2 linked regions of the Homo sapiens genome follow. The protein of the gene in region 1 interacts with the protein of each later gene in a pairwise test. Each region holds a gene or a part of one and is shown on either strand. Other genes may lie near its edges. The genes, in order: PTCH1 and HIBADH.

What was found.
Region 2: the proteins of PTCH1 (region 1) and HIBADH interact in binary tests that used the Homo sapiens proteins (3 or more experiments, as listed by UniProt).

What each region holds. Positions count from the first base shown.
Region 1 is NC_000009.12:95,442,394-95,451,429, reverse strand, and holds the end of PTCH1 (protein patched homolog 1), read left to right. Parts: intron 1-1,489; coding exon 1,490-1,589; intron 1,590-2,106; coding exon 2,107-2,361; intron 2,362-3,978; coding exon 3,979-4,518; 3' UTR 4,519-4,519; intron 4,520-5,038; 3' UTR 5,039-8,450; downstream 8,451-9,036.
Region 2 is NC_000007.14:27,658,921-27,668,161, reverse strand, and holds the start of HIBADH (3-hydroxyisobutyrate dehydrogenase, mitochondrial isoform 1 precursor), read left to right. Parts: upstream 1-5,278; 5' UTR 5,279-5,373; coding exon 5,374-5,464; intron 5,465-9,241.

The sequences.
Region 1 (9,036 bases):
TTCCTCTTTCAAGCACTTAAAAGGGCTTCCCATTTTCTAGGATGGGATGGATTAACCTGATAAAGGCCTCACCAAGGTCAAATAAATGAGCAGACACTGTATATGCTAAGCCGTCAGAAATCTAATTGGCCTGTTTATGCTTCAGCTAGATGGATGGGATGCAAATGTCTTAATGTGGCTGCTGATACATGCCCCAGCCGAAAGTTCCAGCAGTTTACATTAGACCAAGACATTGGCTGCTTGGTTTTTACTAATGTAGTTCAGAAGTTTCTAGTGTTTACAATAGCTGTGAGGTATTTGTATTTTTATGGGGATTCTCTCTCCTTTCATCTGATGTCAAAACATATATAGACATGGCAGCACTGGTTGCCTGTTCCATTTTATGAACCAGAGGACCATTAACAGATAGATATCTTGCCCCCCCCTTCCCAGAACATCCTGAGCCTCTCCCCTACCCCAGCCCACTTCCATCAGAGTTGCCCTAGAAATCATTAGTTCCAGAAACGCATCCCTGCGTGGAGTCTGTGCCCTCCAGCCATGCAGAGTGTCTGCCAGAGGCTGTCCCTGGCTGACAGGTTTACCTTGGTATTCATGAAGGATTCCAGACCTTAGCCCTCAATGGTGGGAAAGCAGAACTACTTCTGCACTCTCCTCCTCTGCCATGGTGCTGCGGCCTTTATGTTTGAATTGGCTGACGCAAAACAAGAGTATTCAGAGATGCTAAATTGTTCAACAAAAGATTGGCCCGCAGAGCAGCCCCGCCATTGTGGAGTGCCCTCACCCAGCACAATGCCCCAGCTCCCACAGAATGGGCAGCATTTTCTTTGCAGAAAGCTGGTTCCTGTGTTCTAAAAAGGTTGCAATTGGAGCTATTTGGTAAAACTGGAACTCACAGAATTCTAGGCAGAAAGTTGTGATTAATGAAAGGCCAGGGAAAGCCTTACCTGATATGCTAGAGACTTAATTAGAGATTCTGCCGTAAGATGCAGAAGCATTTCACAGTGGATTAGCAGCCTGCAGAAGTGGGCTGCTTTTCCTCCTGGGCTAAATTGTTTAAATTCTACACCCTTCACTTCATTTGTTTGCTTCTGCTGGGTTTTCACGAGCGGGGCCCCTCGGCATTGTGTTTGTGCTTTCAGTCTGCCCAGCCATTCAGGTCGCATTCCATATTTTTGTGTTTGTGTAACACATTCATAAATAACATTACATGCCATCAGAGTTCAGCAAATTAACAAACTAATTTTTTTTTTCTTCCCTTCATGAACTAACACTTTGGGTTGTGGAATGTAGTCCTCAAAGTCATAAGGTAAAGAAACAAAAAGCAAAAACTCACCTTGTGTTGAATGTGAACTGCGGTTGGATAACAGCCTTTTCAGTGGGGTGGGTTTTGTTCATTTCTGGCGTTGCCATGCTGCTGTGTCGGGCACACGGAGGGTGGCGCGATCCACCCTGTCACAGCGCGTGTTCCCGTTTCCTCTTGATCTCCCAGGTATTTCTTTGCTGTGCTGGCGATCCTCACCATCCTCGGCGTTCTCAATGGGCTGGTTTTGCTTCCCGTGCTTTTGTCTTTCTTTGGACCATATCCTGAGGTCAGTAGTGACACGGGGATGTCCCACGTGTAGGCCGGCTGAATGCTGTGTTTCCTGTGCCGCTCTTCACTTCGATACTTAGGTGCCTCCCCACTTGCTGGTGGTTCTTCAGTAAACATCTCAGAGTCATGTCTGTTTTCCTCTTCGGTGTACTGGCTTTGAGGGCTAGAGGGCGGGTTCGGTTTGGTTCCTCTAAATCAACTGATTGGCAGCCTGGGTCTTACAGATCTTTATACAGTAAATGAAGACTTTCCCCTTGAGATGCATAATTGGACTTCACAAGAGTAAAAAGTACACATCCTGCCTTTCCAGTGTGGAGCAGAGGACAGTTCTTCTGCTCCAGCTGCGGGACCTGAAGGTCCTCCAGGTGGTAGAGAAGGGGAGGTTAATACGGCACAGTGCGCAGGGCCCCAGGGCAGGGAACAGAGGCCCCTGAAAAATACCGTGCTTTGAGCTTTGAGTGTGGCCAGCAGGTAAATGGACAAGAACACTTTTAACATGGAATCCCCTTAAATAGGTGTCTCCAGCCAACGGCTTGAACCGCCTGCCCACACCCTCCCCTGAGCCACCCCCCAGCGTGGTCCGCTTCGCCATGCCGCCCGGCCACACGCACAGCGGGTCTGATTCCTCCGACTCGGAGTATAGTTCCCAGACGACAGTGTCAGGCCTCAGCGAGGAGCTTCGGCACTACGAGGCCCAGCAGGGCGCGGGAGGCCCTGCCCACCAAGTGATCGTGGAAGCCACAGAAAACCCCGTCTTCGCCCACTCCACTGTAAGTGACTCTGCAGAACCAGGGGGAGGGGTCTTCCCACCGTGGTAGTGGGCCTGGAGGTCCAGCGGGGGCTCCTGTCTGCTGAGCAGCACATCACACAGGCAGATGGGATGCAGAGATAAGGTACAGACTAGGTCAAATCATAGGAAATAACCAGTATTTAACTCTTTCTCAACTATACAAATGCCATCTTCCTGTGGTTTGATCTCATAAAGGATAAAAAGGGCAGGGGCCAGTAATGTCACTGCACAAAGCAGTAGCATCTATCTTGTTCAGGGTGAGGACAGTTTGGGCTTCAAAGGCCAGAGATAAAGCATTCCTGCCTTTTTTTTTTTTTTCCTCTTAAGGTGCATGTCATTTGAGAGTGATATTTTCTAAAACTAGTAGTATTTTTATTGCCAACAGAGGTCAGGTTTTTTCCTTCTCTCATTTCTGTTAGGTTTCAATGCCCTTGATACAACATTCATTATTATTGTCTAAATACTTTACCATAGCTTTTGGGGCTCCAAGCTCATGTTCCAGGTGGCAGGAAAGAGCAGAGAGGCCAAGAACCACCCCTGAGTTCTTAGCCTTCAGTGATTCAGGAGGTCACCAGGAGCCTGGGAGCCCCTCCTCGGAGGCTCCAAGGACCTGGGTCCTTTCCTCCACCCTGTGCTCCCTGGGATGGGCTCAGCCCTGAAAACTCAAGGAAGGTTCTGGGCTGATGTTGCTCCACTGAGGGCCCCCTGCTGTCCCTCCAGGAAATGGGTATTCCAGTCCCAGGCCAGAGCAGCCCTTCCGTGAAAGAGAGAAAGGCCAACCAAATAACCTGAATTGTCCTCCTCCTACCCCCCGCGACGACGCCCGCTGAGCTGCAGTGTGAATCTGGTTTTGTTCAGCAGGAGCCTAAAAATAGGTACAAGCTGAACGACTTTGAAGTTGGTCACGGTCCTTTTGATTGATGTGGCCACTGTGTTGCTCTGTGCTTTGTATAGAGACGCAGAGACCAGATTCTTAACAATCAGATGGAACAGGCTGCCCGCCACAGCCCTCCGCAGTGACGAAAATGCCCTCTCTGCTTTCCAGGATGGGAGCCACCGGCCACACGTGGCTGTGGAGCACTTGAAATGTGGCCGGGGCTACCGAGGAGCTGGATTTTGGATTTTAGTTCATTAAAACTTAAGCAACCACATGTCTGGAGCGGCTACTGTGTTTGACAGAGTAGGCAGAGACAGTCCTGCCAGCGTCCTGCACTCAGGCCAGCCAGGGCCGCACACTTAGCAACTTCGGGAGAGGGGCAGCTCAGAGCCTGCAGAACCTAACAGGGTCGGGGGCAGGTTGTGGGGGGCAGCAGCTTGGATGCTCTGACCACAGCCCACATTTATGGGCAGCAGCAGTACGTGTCCAGCCAGCCGTGTCAGAGAAAGCCTGGAAACAGGATTTTCAAACAACACGCTCCTCCGCCAGGTCCTGGAGGTTATTAGAAGGACAGGCTTTTCTTTTGTGGGTGGAAGGCCCCCATTGGCTCCCCAGGGTTGACTGAGTCTTTGGTGAAACCCAAGGAGGGAAGTGTGGGAGCTGCGGGGACCATGCCCAGCCTGGGATACCACCCTTCTAACCCACCCTCACCCTCTGCAGGTGGTCCATCCCGAATCCAGGCATCACCCACCCTCGAACCCGAGACAGCAGCCCCACCTGGACTCAGGGTCCCTGCCTCCCGGACGGCAAGGCCAGCAGCCCCGCAGGGACCCCCCCAGAGAAGGCTTGTGGCCACCCCCCTACAGACCGCGCAGAGACGCTTTTGAAATTTCTACTGAAGGGCATTCTGGCCCTAGCAATAGGGCCCGCTGGGGCCCTCGCGGGGCCCGTTCTCACAACCCTCGGAACCCAGCGTCCACTGCCATGGGCAGCTCCGTGCCCGGCTACTGCCAGCCCATCACCACTGTGACGGCTTCTGCCTCCGTGACTGTCGCCGTGCACCCGCCGCCTGTCCCTGGGCCTGGGCGGAACCCCCGAGGGGGACTCTGCCCAGGCTACCCTGAGACTGACCACGGCCTGTTTGAGGACCCCCACGTGCCTTTCCACGTCCGGTGTGAGAGGAGGGATTCGAAGGTGGAAGTCATTGAGCTGCAGGACGTGGAATGCGAGGAGAGGCCCCGGGGAAGCAGCTCCAACTGAGGTGAGTGCCACTGACAAGGGCAGCCAAGGGACCTAGAGCCAGGCAAAGAGGAGGACAAGGTTCTCCTGGGGTTCTCGGCATCCCCGAGGGGCTGTGGCGCTCGGGCACATCCCACGCTGGACCCCAGTGACCTTTTATCCCCAGAGCAAGGCTGATGTGTCCAAGCTTTGTCATCCTTGGGGAACCAGTCCAGCTCCACACTGCTCTCTTCCCCCACTGCTAACCTGCGGAGGGTCGGTGCAGCGCCACAAGGACACAAACAGCACCACCTTTTACCAATATTTGCCAGTCTTTATGGAGGTGCATGCCACAGCGAATTGGTCACATGGGAACGCATCCGTGTAACCAGCCCCCAGATGAAGGGAGAGGTCACAAGCAGCCCCCAGGGACACCTCAGGCCCACACCCCACTCTCGTGATTTCTAATACCAAGGTTACTGCTGCCTGCTTTTGTACTTTATAAATACGGACTTGCACACCTCTTACTCTGTTCAACTTCCTTTTTTGCTTCCTTTTAAAGGGTGATTAAAATCTGAAGCAAAGAGGCCAAAGATTGGAAACCCCCCACCCCCACCTCTTTCCAGAACTGCTTGAAGAGAACTGGTTGGAGTTATGGAAAAGATGCCCTGTGCCAGGACAGCAGTTCATTGTTACTGTAACCGATTGTATTATTTTGTTAAATATTTCTATAAATATTTAAGAGATGTACACATGTGTAATATAGGAAGGAAGGATGTAAAGTGGTATGATCTGGGGCTTCTCCACTCCTGCCCCAGAGTGTGGAGGCCACAGTGGGGCCTCTCCGTATTTGTGCATTGGGCTCCGTGCCACAACCAAGCTTCATTAGTCTTAAATTTCAGCATATGTTGCTGCTGCTTAAATATTGTATAATTTACTTGTATAATTCTATGCAAATATTGCTTATGTAATAGGATTATTTTGTAAAGGTTTCTGTTTAAAATATTTTAAATTTGCATATCACAACCCTGTGGTAGTATGAAATGTTACTGTTAACTTTCAAACACGCTATGCGTGATAATTTTTTTGTTTAATGAGCAGATATGAAGAAAGCACGTTAATCCTGGTGGCTTCTCTAGGTGTCGTTGTGTGCGGTCCTCTTGTTTGGCTGTGCGTGTGAACACGTGTGTGAGTTCACCATGTACTGTACTGTGATTTTTTTTTTGTCTTGTTTTGTTTCTCTACACTGTCTGTAACCTGTAGTAGGCTCTGACCTAGTCAGGCTGGAAGCGTCAGGATATCTTTTCTTCGTGCTGGTGAGGGCTGGCCCTAAACATCCACCTAATCCTTTCAAATCAGCCCGGCAAAAGCTAGACTCTCCTCGTGTCTACGGCATCTCTTATGATCATTGGCTGCCATCCAGGACCCCAATTTGTGCTTCAGGGGGATAATCTCCTTCTCTCGGATCATTGTGATGGATGCTGGAACCTCAGGGTATGGAGCTCACATCAGTTCATCATGGTGGGTGTTAGAGAATTCGGTGACATGCCTAGTGCTGAGCCTTGGCTGGGCCATGAGAGTCTGTATACTCTAAAAAGCATGCAGCATGGTGCCCCTCTTCTGACCAACACACACACGACCCCTCCCCCAACACCCCCAAATTCAAGAGTGGATGTGGCCCTGTCACAGGTAGAAAAACCTATTTAGTTAATTCTTTCTTGGCCCACAGTCTCCCAGAAATGATGTTTTGAGTCCCTATAGTTTAAACTCCCTCTCTTAAATGGAGCAGCTGGTTGAGGCTTTCTAGATCTGTTTGCATCTTCTTTAAAACTAAGTGGTGAGCATGCATTGTGGTGTAGAGGCAGGCATTATGTAGGATAAGAGCTCCGGGGGGATTCTTCATGCACCAGTGTTTAGGGTACGTGCTTCCTAAGTAAATCCAAACATTGTCTCCATCCTCCCCGTCATTAGTGCTCTTTCAATGTGATGTGGGAAAGCAGGAGGATGGACACACCCCACTGAAAGATGTAGGCAGGGGCAGGTCTCTCAACCAGGCATATTTTTAAAAGTTGCTTCTGTACTGGTTCTCTTCTTTTGCTCTGAGGTGTGGGCTCCCTCATCTCGTAACCAGAGACCAGCACATGTCAGGGAAGCACCCAGTGTCGGCTCCCCATCCAAATCCACACCAGCACCTTGTTACAGACAAGAAGTCAGAGGAAAGGGCGGGGTCCCTGCAGGGCTGAAGCCTAAGCTACTGTGAGGCGCTCACGAGTGGCAGCTCCTGTTACTCCCTTTTAAATTACCTGGGAAATCTTAACAGAAAGGTAATGGGCCCCCAGAAATACCCACAGCATAGTGACCTCAGACCCTGATACTCACCACAAAACTTTTAAGATGCTGATTGGGAGCCGCTTGTGGCTGCTGGGTGTGTGTGTGTGTGTGTGCGTGCGTGCGTGTGTGTGTGTCTCTGCTGGGGACCCTGGCCACCCCCCTGCTGCTGTCTTGGTGCCTGTCACCCACATGGTCTGCCATCCTAACACCCAGCTCTGCTCAGAAAACGTCCTGCGTGGAGGAGGGATGATGCAGAATTCTGAAGTCGACTTCCCTCTGGCTCCTGGCGTGCCCTCGCTCCCTTCCTGAGCCCAGCTCGTGTTGCGCCGGAGGCTGCGCGGCCCCTGATTTCTGCATGGTGTAGAACTTTCTCCAATAGTCACATTGGCAAAGGGAGAACTGGGGTGGGCGGGGGGTGGGGCTGGCAGGGAATTAGAATTTCTCTCTCTCTTTTAATAGTTTTATTTTGTCTGTCCTGTTTGTTCATTTGGATGTTTTAATTTTTAAAAAAAAAAAAACTTTGCTGATATTTATAATTTTGTATCATAAGAATGTTTTCCTCTACAGTATTTGTCATGCCAGTTTATAACAAAAAAAAATGCAGGGATTTTATTTCTATTGGAAACATTACAGCTATGTTTTACTTTTGGACAGAATTTTTATTTGTATAGAGTGCTTACTAATGTTAAATAGTTCAGAGTATATAACATTTACATTAAGGACTCATGGTAGGTTTTAGGGTAAGGAGTTTAAAGGAAATAAATATTCAAACTGGGTCTCATTGCCAATTTTGGTGGAAATGAGTTTGTGTCATTTCAATTACAAAGATAAAAGTATGCCATATAATTTATTTATATGAAGATTTATTTTTGTAGTGTACATAGTAGTCATCAAGTCTTTTGACAGAAGTATATTTTTAAAGAATTTATATGTGATGAATCCATAATGTCTGGAACTTTGCTGAGACATGAGTGGGCACAGTTTTCATTGTAAATTACAGCAAGGAAAGAAAATGTTTAACAGTGTTAAGAGAGTCAGAGCAGAGTGGATATTCATGCGATTATGAAGTGTTTATTAGTTACCATTGGCGACCTAGCATGCTTCTCATTTCAAACCTTGGAAGGTGAAAATGTACAAACTCTCTAAATAATTAATGTTCAAACACTGATAGAAATTCTAACATGAATAAAAAATAATATAACTTGTTGGTTATATCTTTGTTTGTAGAATGCTTTTTTTCTTTAAAATACTTGGGAGAGACAGTTAGTGTTGGAGCCATCAGAAACTGTTGTTTCATCTTGCTGACCTTGTGACACTCTTCTTTTTTGCTCTATCTGATGGAGAGAGTTTTAGGTTTTCCTCCTTTTTGTTTTGTATAAATAGTGGGTATAAGCATAGCTCTGTTACATGGATGTATTACAAAGTGGGGGCTGAGCTTTTAGTGTGATCATCACCCAAATAGTGTACATTGTACCCATTAATTAATTTCTTATCACCTGACCCTATTTTTGTTTTCTCATACCAAGAAACTTCCTAAGTTAACCATCAAAATTAGTCCTTCTGTCATCTCTCTTAGCATACTTATTTCCCTTATGTGATGCCTAATAATGAGGGAACATAAATAAAGCCAAATTCAAAGATGATTATCATCAGTGAAGGTGTCATACTTCTAAACAGTGTCAAAGATAATATGGAATTGATTGAACCTGATACAGAACAGTTTTTGAGTGTTTCCTGGTAAGCAATGATTTCATCATAGGCATGGAGAAAAATATGGCCAGGAATATCATGTCCATGTTACAGCTGTGTAAGCAAGGAGTGGTGGGGCTGAACTCAAGGCCCACACTGCTGTGCACATGGGCAAGTTGCAGAGGGGTCAGTGAGCCACAGCCGGCTGGCCATGTCCTGTTGCACAGGTTCATGAGGAGAGAGTCGTGCCTGTTGCCGCACATGTTGTTGATGGCTGTTTTTCTGCTGCAACGGCAGAGTTCAGTAGCTGCAACACAGACTATGGTCTGCAGAGACTATGATATTTACTATCTGGCCGTAAGACACCTGCCAATCCATCTCTAGACAAGGTAACATAGGCCAGTGCTAGTCAAGTGTGGTCCACGAATCAGCCTGCCTTGGAAGCTTGCTAGAAAAACCGAATCCAACACCACCTAACTCAGAATCTTGGAGTGAGGTCCAGGAATCTGCTTTAACGATCTGTCCTGGTGGTTGTGATGC
Region 2 (9,241 bases), on another chromosome or scaffold:
TTAAATAAATGCAATAATATGTACTTAGATTTGCTCTTATCTTAGGACACAACTCAATTATCTTACCGGTGTTTTGTGTTCCAAAATTTTTAAAACTGCCTAGAACAAAGACTTGTCATGCCATCCAAATCTTATGGCTAAGTGACTAAGTTCTGGCCAGTGGGAAGGACAATTGTGGGGTGGGACTTATAGGGAGGCTTCTGAAAATGAGAACAGTTTGCTGACACACCTCTTTCCTTTACTTTTCCCTCCTTTTCTTTCCTCTTGCCTGGAACTCAGACAAGATGGTTGGACCACTAGCAGCTATCTTTGATCATGAAGTAATTATGAGGTTAGAAAATCATTTTAGACAGTAAAACAAAATGAGAAGTTTGGAATTTTGACAACTCAGAGCTGTCAAACTGGCCCTGGTTCTGCCTACATCCACACTACTTTTATGAGAGGAAAAACCAAATTGTTATCATTTGGACTTTGTTTTATCCAACCAAACCTGATGCTGATAGTTTTTGAAAGTGACTTTAAATGTAGTTTCTTAATCAAACTGGATTGTTTTTATGACTGCTTATATATTATTCAGAAAAAGACTTCTTGAGGAAAGTCACTTTGAGTTGAGTCCTAACAAGTGGGGAGTGTAGAAGCAGTATTAGAATGTGTGGAAAAGAGAAAGGAAGGAAAGAAGAAAAGCAGAGAACCTGAGGAACTCAGAGTGCTCTGGGAAAGGGAAAGAGTACTGCATTGTCAGGGAGGTGAGTACAGAGAGAATGATATCTTAGGAATAGGCGTAAAAATGATTAGATAGTGTGGGTATTGTTGGGAAAGTCTTATTCCTCTTCTTCCCAGATTCTGAGATTCTGATGACAGGAATGTTAGATTTTTTTTTTTTGAGACGGAGTTTCACTCTTGTTGTCCAGGCTGGAGTGCAGTAACGCGATCTCGGCTCACTGCAACCTCCTGCTCCCAGGTTCAATCGATTCTCCTGCCTCAGCCTCCTGAGTAGCTGGGATTACAGGCGCCCACCACCATGCCCAGCTGATTTTTGTATTTTAGGTAGACACGAGGTTTCACCATGTTGGCCAGGCTGGTCTTGAACTCCTGACCTCAGGTGATCCACCTGCTTGGGCCTCCCAAAGTGGGATTACAGGCGTGGGCCACCACACCCAGCTGAATGTTAGATCTTTTGTTAAGAGTCACAACACATGCCCCTGAGCTTCGTGGCTTTTTTTTTTTGAGACGGAGTCTCGCTCTGTCGCCCAGGCTGGAGTGCAGTGGCACAATCTCGGCTCACTGCAAGCTCCACCTCCTGGGTTCACGCCATTCTCCTGCCTCAGCCTCCCGAGTAGCTGGGACTACAGGCGCCCGCCACCACACCTGGCTAATTTTTTTGTATTTTTAGTAGAGACGGGGTTTCACCGTATTAGCCAGGATGGTCCCGATCTCCTGACCACGTGATCCGCCCGCCTTGGCCTCCCAAAGTGCTGGGATTACAGGCTTGAGCCACCTCGCCCAGCGCTTCGTAGCTTTTTAAATCCCAGTCTAGTTTCTCTCTGTTTAGATTAGATAGTTTCTACTGTTCTATCTTCTAGCTCAGTGATTCTTTTCTTTATTCTGCTGTTGAGTTAAAAAATTGTATTTCTTGCATTTTTTCAGTTTTAAAATTTCCATTTATTTCTTCTTTATATGTTGTTTCTTTGCTGAGATTTCTTTTTATTTAATTCAAGCATGTTTTATTGTTTTATTTTACTTTTTGAGAAGGAGTCTCACTCTGCCATCCAGGCTGGAGTGCAGTGGCGTGATAGCTCACTGCAACCTCCGCCTCCTGGGTTCAAGTGATTCTCCTGCCTCAGCCTCCTGAGTTGCTGGGATTACAGGTGCCCACCACCACACCTGGGTAATTTTTGTATTTTTTTGGAAGAGATGGGGTTTTACCATGTTGGCCAGGCTGATCTTGAACTCCTCACCTCAAGTGATCTGCCAGCCTCGGCCTCCCAAAGTGCTAAGATTACAGGTGTGAGCCACCATGCCTGGCCTCAAGCATGTTTTAATTGCTTCTTGAAATATTTTCTGATGGATGCTTTCAAATCTTTGTTAGATAATTTTAACTTGTCATCTCAGTGTTGGCATCTATTGTCTTTTTTATTCAGCTTGAAATCTTCCTGGGTTTTGGAATCATGAGTCATTTTTTAATTGAAATTTGGTATCATGAGTGATTTTTTGTTGAAATCTGGACATTTGGGTATTATGATATTTTGGATATTATTTAAACCTTTTATTTTAACTAGTTTTTCTTGACACTGCTCTGGCAGGGGGCATCAACTTGTAAATGGCAACTGGTAGTAGAAGTCTAGGTTCCTTATTCCACCTCTGTTGACACCAAGGGTGGGTGGTTCCTTGTTACTGCTGGGCAATGGTGGGAGTTTCAGCTCCCCACTAGTTGTCCACTGATACTTCCCTAGTTGAGAGGGCTTGGAATGGCTCCTTACTGCCCCCATGTAGCCTCCAGTGACACCATGGAGGGGAAGGGGTGTGACATCCTTACCATTGGGCAGTGATGAAAGCTCTGACTCTCCAATACACCTCCAATTACACCATCTAAGCAGGGAAAGGGAGGGGTACCTCACCACTGTAAGGTAGGAGTGGAAATCCAGGGTCGCCCTGTGGTTTCCAGTGACACTGAGAGTAGGGAAGGATGTGTGTGGAGGATTACTTGTTACTGCCCAGTTGAAGATGAAAATCCCATACCTCTCTTTGGTTTTCTCTGACATCACCTTAGAGGGGTTGAGGAGTAGAGCGATTGGGGTGTTAGGATGCTGGGGTGTCTCATCACAACCTGGAGAGTGTGGAAGTCTAGGCTCCCAACTCAGCCTTTGCTTTATGGGGTGGGGTCAGTGTGTGTATGTATGTGTGTATTGTTTGTCTACAGTGGAGTGATTATCTTCTAAATGTTTCCTTTCTTGCTAGGCCACTCCTTTTTCATCACTTGGCTAGAAAGAGCAGCCTTTTATTGGGGCACTTTTTGTCTATCTATGCTTCCTGGCATTTTGGGGTTTCTGGTTTTGGCTTCTCCAGCACCCAGTTTGGGGTATATAAGGCTACATGAAAACCCAAGGAACTTCCCACCGTGTTGCTCTCTGGACCCTAGCCAGTGTGACTTCTCTCCACCTTTCAAAGTCTCCCTATGTTTATCTTATATATAATGTTGAGTTTTTAGTTGTACTTAGAAGAATAGGGAGAAACCTATCTACTCCATCTTCCTGGAAGCGGAAGTCAGGGGCCACTATAAGGCATTGAAACAATTACAAACAAAAATGCGTGGCAAAGACTCAGGGAGGAGTTGCAGTGCCTTTCAAACAAGGGCATCAGGAGGGCAATCAAATGAAGAAAGCTAACCAGCCATAGGCAGGAACTGCATTTGCCAGTACAATAATATCTGCAAGCACCTTCAAACAGTAAGAATTACTTAAAAATTCATAACGCTTCTTTAAAATCATGGAAACCTATGAAAATTCCTTAGTTTATGAATCAATGTAGGGCTTCTTGGAGGAGACATTGTTGGAGAAGACAATGCAGGGCTTCTTGGAGGAGACACAGTTGAAAGACCAATTGCAGTTCAGGAGTTAATTATAGAAACCTGTAGTGCTGGAGGAAGAAAAAGAAAAAGAAACCTGTAGGCCCACATTTGTTGCCTGCAGGAGATCTATTCCAGCTAAAACCTGACGAAACCAGGAAGAGAGGCACAGGTGGGAAATGCTCCAGAAACTAATTTACCCCTAGTAGGGGTGGGGACCCAAATCTAGGAGAAGGTCTAATTGTTGAAATGAGTTTTTTCTCCCTCCCTCCCTTCGTCCCTTTCCTTCCTTCTTTTCATTTAGTGTTGGGTAGAGGGTTGGGGTGGAGTGATGGTCAAAGAAGGGCATTAACTTCCTCCCAGTTACAGATAGGGACCTTGCACTCTGTACAAGTTTTTAAGTTTTTGGAAACGTTGCCAGCATGCCCAGAAACATGAAAAGAGCCCAGATGGAAATGATCCAATTCCTTTGCTTTCAACTCCATGGGTTACTGAGTTGAAAAAAAGGTCAAAGTCAAATTTTGTTGATTGTGCTACTTAGATTGGGGTTCGCATTTCCCTAGCTACTCCATACACATTCTCTTTCCTGCTGTATTGCCATTCTCCAAAGGCTATAGTCTTGCTTTGGTGTGGTCATGGCTTCCAACCCTTTGGTGGAGTCAGTGGAGATGAGAAGGCCTGCAATTACCCCCAAGGGGTTTACAGACTCAAATATGTACACTAAGCATTGACAGAAGAATGACTAAATGTCTGTCTCTCTGCACCGCGCAGTGGCTCACGCCTGTAATAACCAGCACTTTGGGAGGCCGAGGCGGGCGGATCACTTGACGCCAGGAGTTTGAGACCAGCCTAGGCAAAATGGCGACACCCCGCCTCTACTCAAAGTGCCAAAAAAATTAGCCGGGTGTGGTGGCGCACGCAGGCCTATAGTCCCACCTCACCTACTCCGGAGGCTGAAGCAGGAGAATCACTTGAACCCGGGAGGCGGAGATTGCAGTGAGCCGAGATCGCGCCACTGCACTCCAGCCTGGGTGACAGAGAGACTCCGTCTCCAAAAAAAAAAAAGGTCTTTCTAATACACATACATATACTACTACTTTCTGGATTTTATATTTAGTTTTGCTTACAAAATGGATTTAGGGTGTAGAATTTTCAAAGATTAGAGAAATATGCCTTGAAATAGAAAGTGCAAGTTTCTAGTAACTCTTCCCTTCAAAGATAATGTTACCAACTTCTTTTCCTACTATTTTTAGTATTGAGAAACTGTTGTGTTAAGTAAAATCAAATGAATTTAAAAGTTATTACACACATGGTAGCTTTCTGAGTGTTTTTCAAGCTGCGAGTCAGTTTTGTCCTTTTTAACACGCAGCGGTTGTGGGGACAAGGTTTCCGAGGAGGCGGGAGCGAGCGACGGCCCCCGCCTCCCACACGCCCTCTGCTTTGGTAAACAAGGAGACTCCCGCCCGCAGGCTGTAAATGAGGCACGAGCTTGGGGGCAGCGCCAGGGCGCCTGGCGTCACTGTTCAAAAAGGCCTCTTATTGGTCCTTCGCACAGCTGCGGACCTGGGAATTCTGATTGGTCTGCTTCCCTGTCCGTAAAGGGATTGACAGGCCCTGCCGCGTCAGGCCGCTCCTCTCGGCTCCGCGCTCCTTCCCTCGCGCGTGGGCACCCGCCCCCGAGCGGTGAGAGCGCGTGCGCGCGCGCCCTTCTCCGTGGGCGAGCCAGCCAGTCCCGCTGCACACGCTCGCAGTCTGTGGGCCCTCCGGGAGGCGGCGGAGGTCACCGCGGGGAGAGGGGCGGGCGCAGCATGGCAGCCTCCTTACGGCTCCTCGGAGCTGCCTCCGGTCTCCGGTACTGGAGCCGGCGGCTGCGGCCGGCAGCCGGCAGCTTTGCAGCGGGTAAGGACCTCACGCCTCCTCCCCCTTGTCCTTCTTTCGGCCGCTCGCTTCTTCTGTCCAGACGGCCGAAGAAGTCTTTTCTCGGGAGGCCCTGCGGTTGGGCTGGGGCTTAAAAAACAATATTTTGGCTGGTACTAAAGGCCTGTCCTTTTCTGCGGCCGCCACTCACTCCGCGAGTACCCCCCTCTGCCTTCCCTCCCTTTCTCCCGGGCTCCTGATGAACGGGTTCAGCGCCCTTTTCGGGATTTAGGAAGAGGTGGGGAAGAGCTTGGGCTGAAGAGAAGAGAGTATTTGGGACCCCGGCATGCTGCTTTGGAGTTAGGACTCCGAGGACGTTTGGAGCGCCCAACTCCAGGAGCAACCCGCACTCACCCCAGCGACCCCTGGTCTTTCAGCGCCCCCAGGGTGCACCTTGGGTTGGGGACACACTTGGGCAGCAGGGCCTGATGTTTAACCACCTGAGTCCGAGGGGATGGCCTTATTACACAAGCGGTGGCTGTACAAGCCAGGCAGTAAGTCTTTCAGCAAAGTTTCAGTCACCCTTGACCAGCAAGACGGGCTTCCCCCCTCTACTGTAACCTAAAAAAATGTCATTTTTGTCAAATTATGAACCAAAACACGTTCAGCGTCCTCAAGATTGTGGGCAGAATTAATCCTGCCTCCCTCCTCTCATACCATGGTAAATTGTGGAAGCTAGCCATGAACTTACAAAGAGGCAGTTTTTAGAGCCAGGATGAAGATCCACGGAGATCTAATACAGTCTTTCATACTCCGCACGAGGGACATGAGGCCCCTTGGATGAGTGAATCAGGATATTCCCAGCAAGACCTAGAAAGTTGTTATCAGTTGTTCCTAATTCCTTAACTTTCTATCACACCAGGACTCCTCTTTAATTGAAAAATTGGTTGATTTGTGGGGGCACTGCCGTTGTCTTCCTCAAACTGAAAGTTTGAGAGTTGTAACAATGCATCGTTTAGCAAGATCATACTGAGGATTAATAACAAAAAAAACCTTGGCATTAATTTTTTCTAATCTTTGCTTAAAAAAAAAATAGTGGGTTAGGATTTGAGCCCCTTGGCCCCCCGCCCTTTTTTTTTTTTTTTTTTTTTTTTGAGACAGGGTCTCTGTCGCCCAGGCTGGAGTGCAGTGGCCCAGTCACACTGCTCACTGCAGTCTCGACCTCCTGGGCTCAGGTGATCCTCCCACCTCAGCCTCCCGAGTAGCTGGGATTACAGGCATGTGCCACCACGCCCGTCCAATTTTTGTATTTTTAGTAGGGACGGAGTTTCGCCATGTTGCCCAGGCTGGTCTTGAACTCCTGCGCTCAAGTGATCCTCCCAAAGCGTTGGGATTATAGGCATGAACCACTGTGGCTGGCCAGGAATTGTAAGAACTTTCTCTTACAATTCTTAACAGCTTCCCATTCTCCCCCTCAGTGAAACCTCTGAATTTCCTTTCTGGCTGGAGAAGAACAGAGGCTCGGTGAGATGCAAGAGACCAGATGTCTGATACAGAACCACAGTAACAAGATAAAAACTCAGAATATGCCAAACTTGAATGTAACCACTGTTTGAGCTTCATATATTGAGCTACAAAAATGCTTCCGACTTTTGAGATAACCCTAAAAGAATAGACACTTTTCCACAGTAGCACCAGTTTTCACATGAATTCACAATTCTTTCAGTTCCCATTAGCCAAGGAAGACATATTTGCTGTTTAGTGGTTTTACAAGGTGTTCTAATGGTATTTTAATGAACCCTTGATGTACCTTTTAGAGTTATGAAAGTTCTTACCAATTCATGGTGAAAGAGCCTGAGGCCTAAGACTGTAATACGTGCCTCTGTAAACTGGGAGGGCCTACCTCAGAGTGCTGATTAGACTACTTTGGCATATGGTCTTGTACTTTGGGTTCTTTGGCCCAAAGGTAATTGTCAGAATATAGATTTCTGATAAATTTTAAATAGTTCTTTTGTGATGAAGTGGTTAAATCACTTAAGCAATTTTTTTTTCTCTTGAAAAAAATTTTTTTTTTTCCCTCGGAGTCTTTGTCTGTCGCCCAGGCTAGAGTGCATTGGCGCAATCTCAGCTCACTGCAAGCTCCGCCTCCCAGGTTCACGCCATTCTCCTGCCTCAGCCTCCGGAGTACCTGGGACTACAGGCGCCTGCCACCACGCCCGGCTAGTTTTTTGGTATTTTTTAGTAGAAACGGGGTTTCACCATGTTAGCCAGGATGGTCTCTATCACTTGACCTCGTGATCCGCCCGCCTTGGCCTCCCAGAGTGCTGGGATTACAGGCGTGAGCCACTGTGCCCGGCCTTTCTTTGGAATTGTTTTAAACATTTAAATTTCTGTTAATTTTAGTTTACTGCAAAAGTGTTAACTTTTCTGACATTAGATTCTTAAAGAGTAGAAAAAAATCTGCCTGCAAGTTTGGAGTCAAATGACATTAAGAAAAAGAACCATGTTCAGATAGTAATGTGTGATGTTCTGAATTCTGTTGGATATTTGTAGTATGTTTAAGATGTTTATATCATATGAATGATAATATTATAAGGAGCTATATAATTTACTGTTTAAAAAAATGAAACCTGAAAGTTGCCGGTTAGTAGCACATCTTTTTAACTTTTTTATAAATACATTTTAGAGACAGGTCTCCCCGTGTTGTCCAGGCAGGAGTACAATGGCACCTACTTAGCTCACTGCAACCTTGAACTCCTGTACTCAAGTGATCTTCCGCCTCAGCTTCCCAAGTAGTTAGGATTGCAGGGTGCACCACGATACCTAGCTAATTTAAAAAAAAATGTTTTTTGAGACAAGGCTAGTTGCCTACTACGCTGGTCTAGAACTACTGGCGTGAAGCCATCCTCTTGCCTTGACCTCCCAAAGTGTTGGGCTTACAGGCATTAGCCACTGTGCCCAGCCTGCCACATCTTAATTTTTAAATGTTTGTTTGTTTGTTTGTTTGTTTATTTGAGATGGGGTCTCTCTCTCTCTCTTGTCCAGGCTGGAGTGCAGTGGTGCAATCATGGCTCATTGCAGCCTCAACCTCGTGGGCTCAAGCAATCCCCCTGCCTCAGCCTCCCAAGTAGCTGGGACCACAGGTGCACACCACCACACCTGGCTTTATTTATTTATTTATTTTTTTTGTAGAGATGGGGTCTCACCATGTTGCCCAGCCTGGTCTTGAACTCTGGGGGTCAACTGATCCTCCTGCCTCAGCCTCCCAAAGTACTGGGATTACAGTCATGAGCCACTGTGCCTAAGCCTAATTTTAAAATACTTAAAGCATTGAAAAGGAAATAGAAGAATGAGAAATGTTAAAGTGTACATGTATTACTATTTCATCACCTGTTTGATAAAATTGTGTATGTTATTTTAGAAGGTAATTAAGTTTAGTTTCAGACTTATTTGTACAGAGAAGAAAATCTACAGCTATAGGCCCTCTACAAAATGTCACGTTGTGACTCTACAGCTTGTACATGGAAAAATAAATCACATCAGATCATCTTGAGGTGACCACCTGACCAAAGGTAGAATGGAAAAATTAGCATCATGTATAGAAACAGGAATACAATTTTTAATATTATTGGTCCTTTTTGTATATGTGAAATTTACTTTCAAAGTAGCATAACTCATTGGATAAATCAAATATATAATGGCAGTTTTTCCCTTTACATTAGCTTCTAGGGCTGCACATGAAGTTCTGAAAAGCTGCTCATGGTCCGGGGCCTAAAAGTTGACCCTAAACTTGTGAAATTACATAAGGAGCGTATTTAT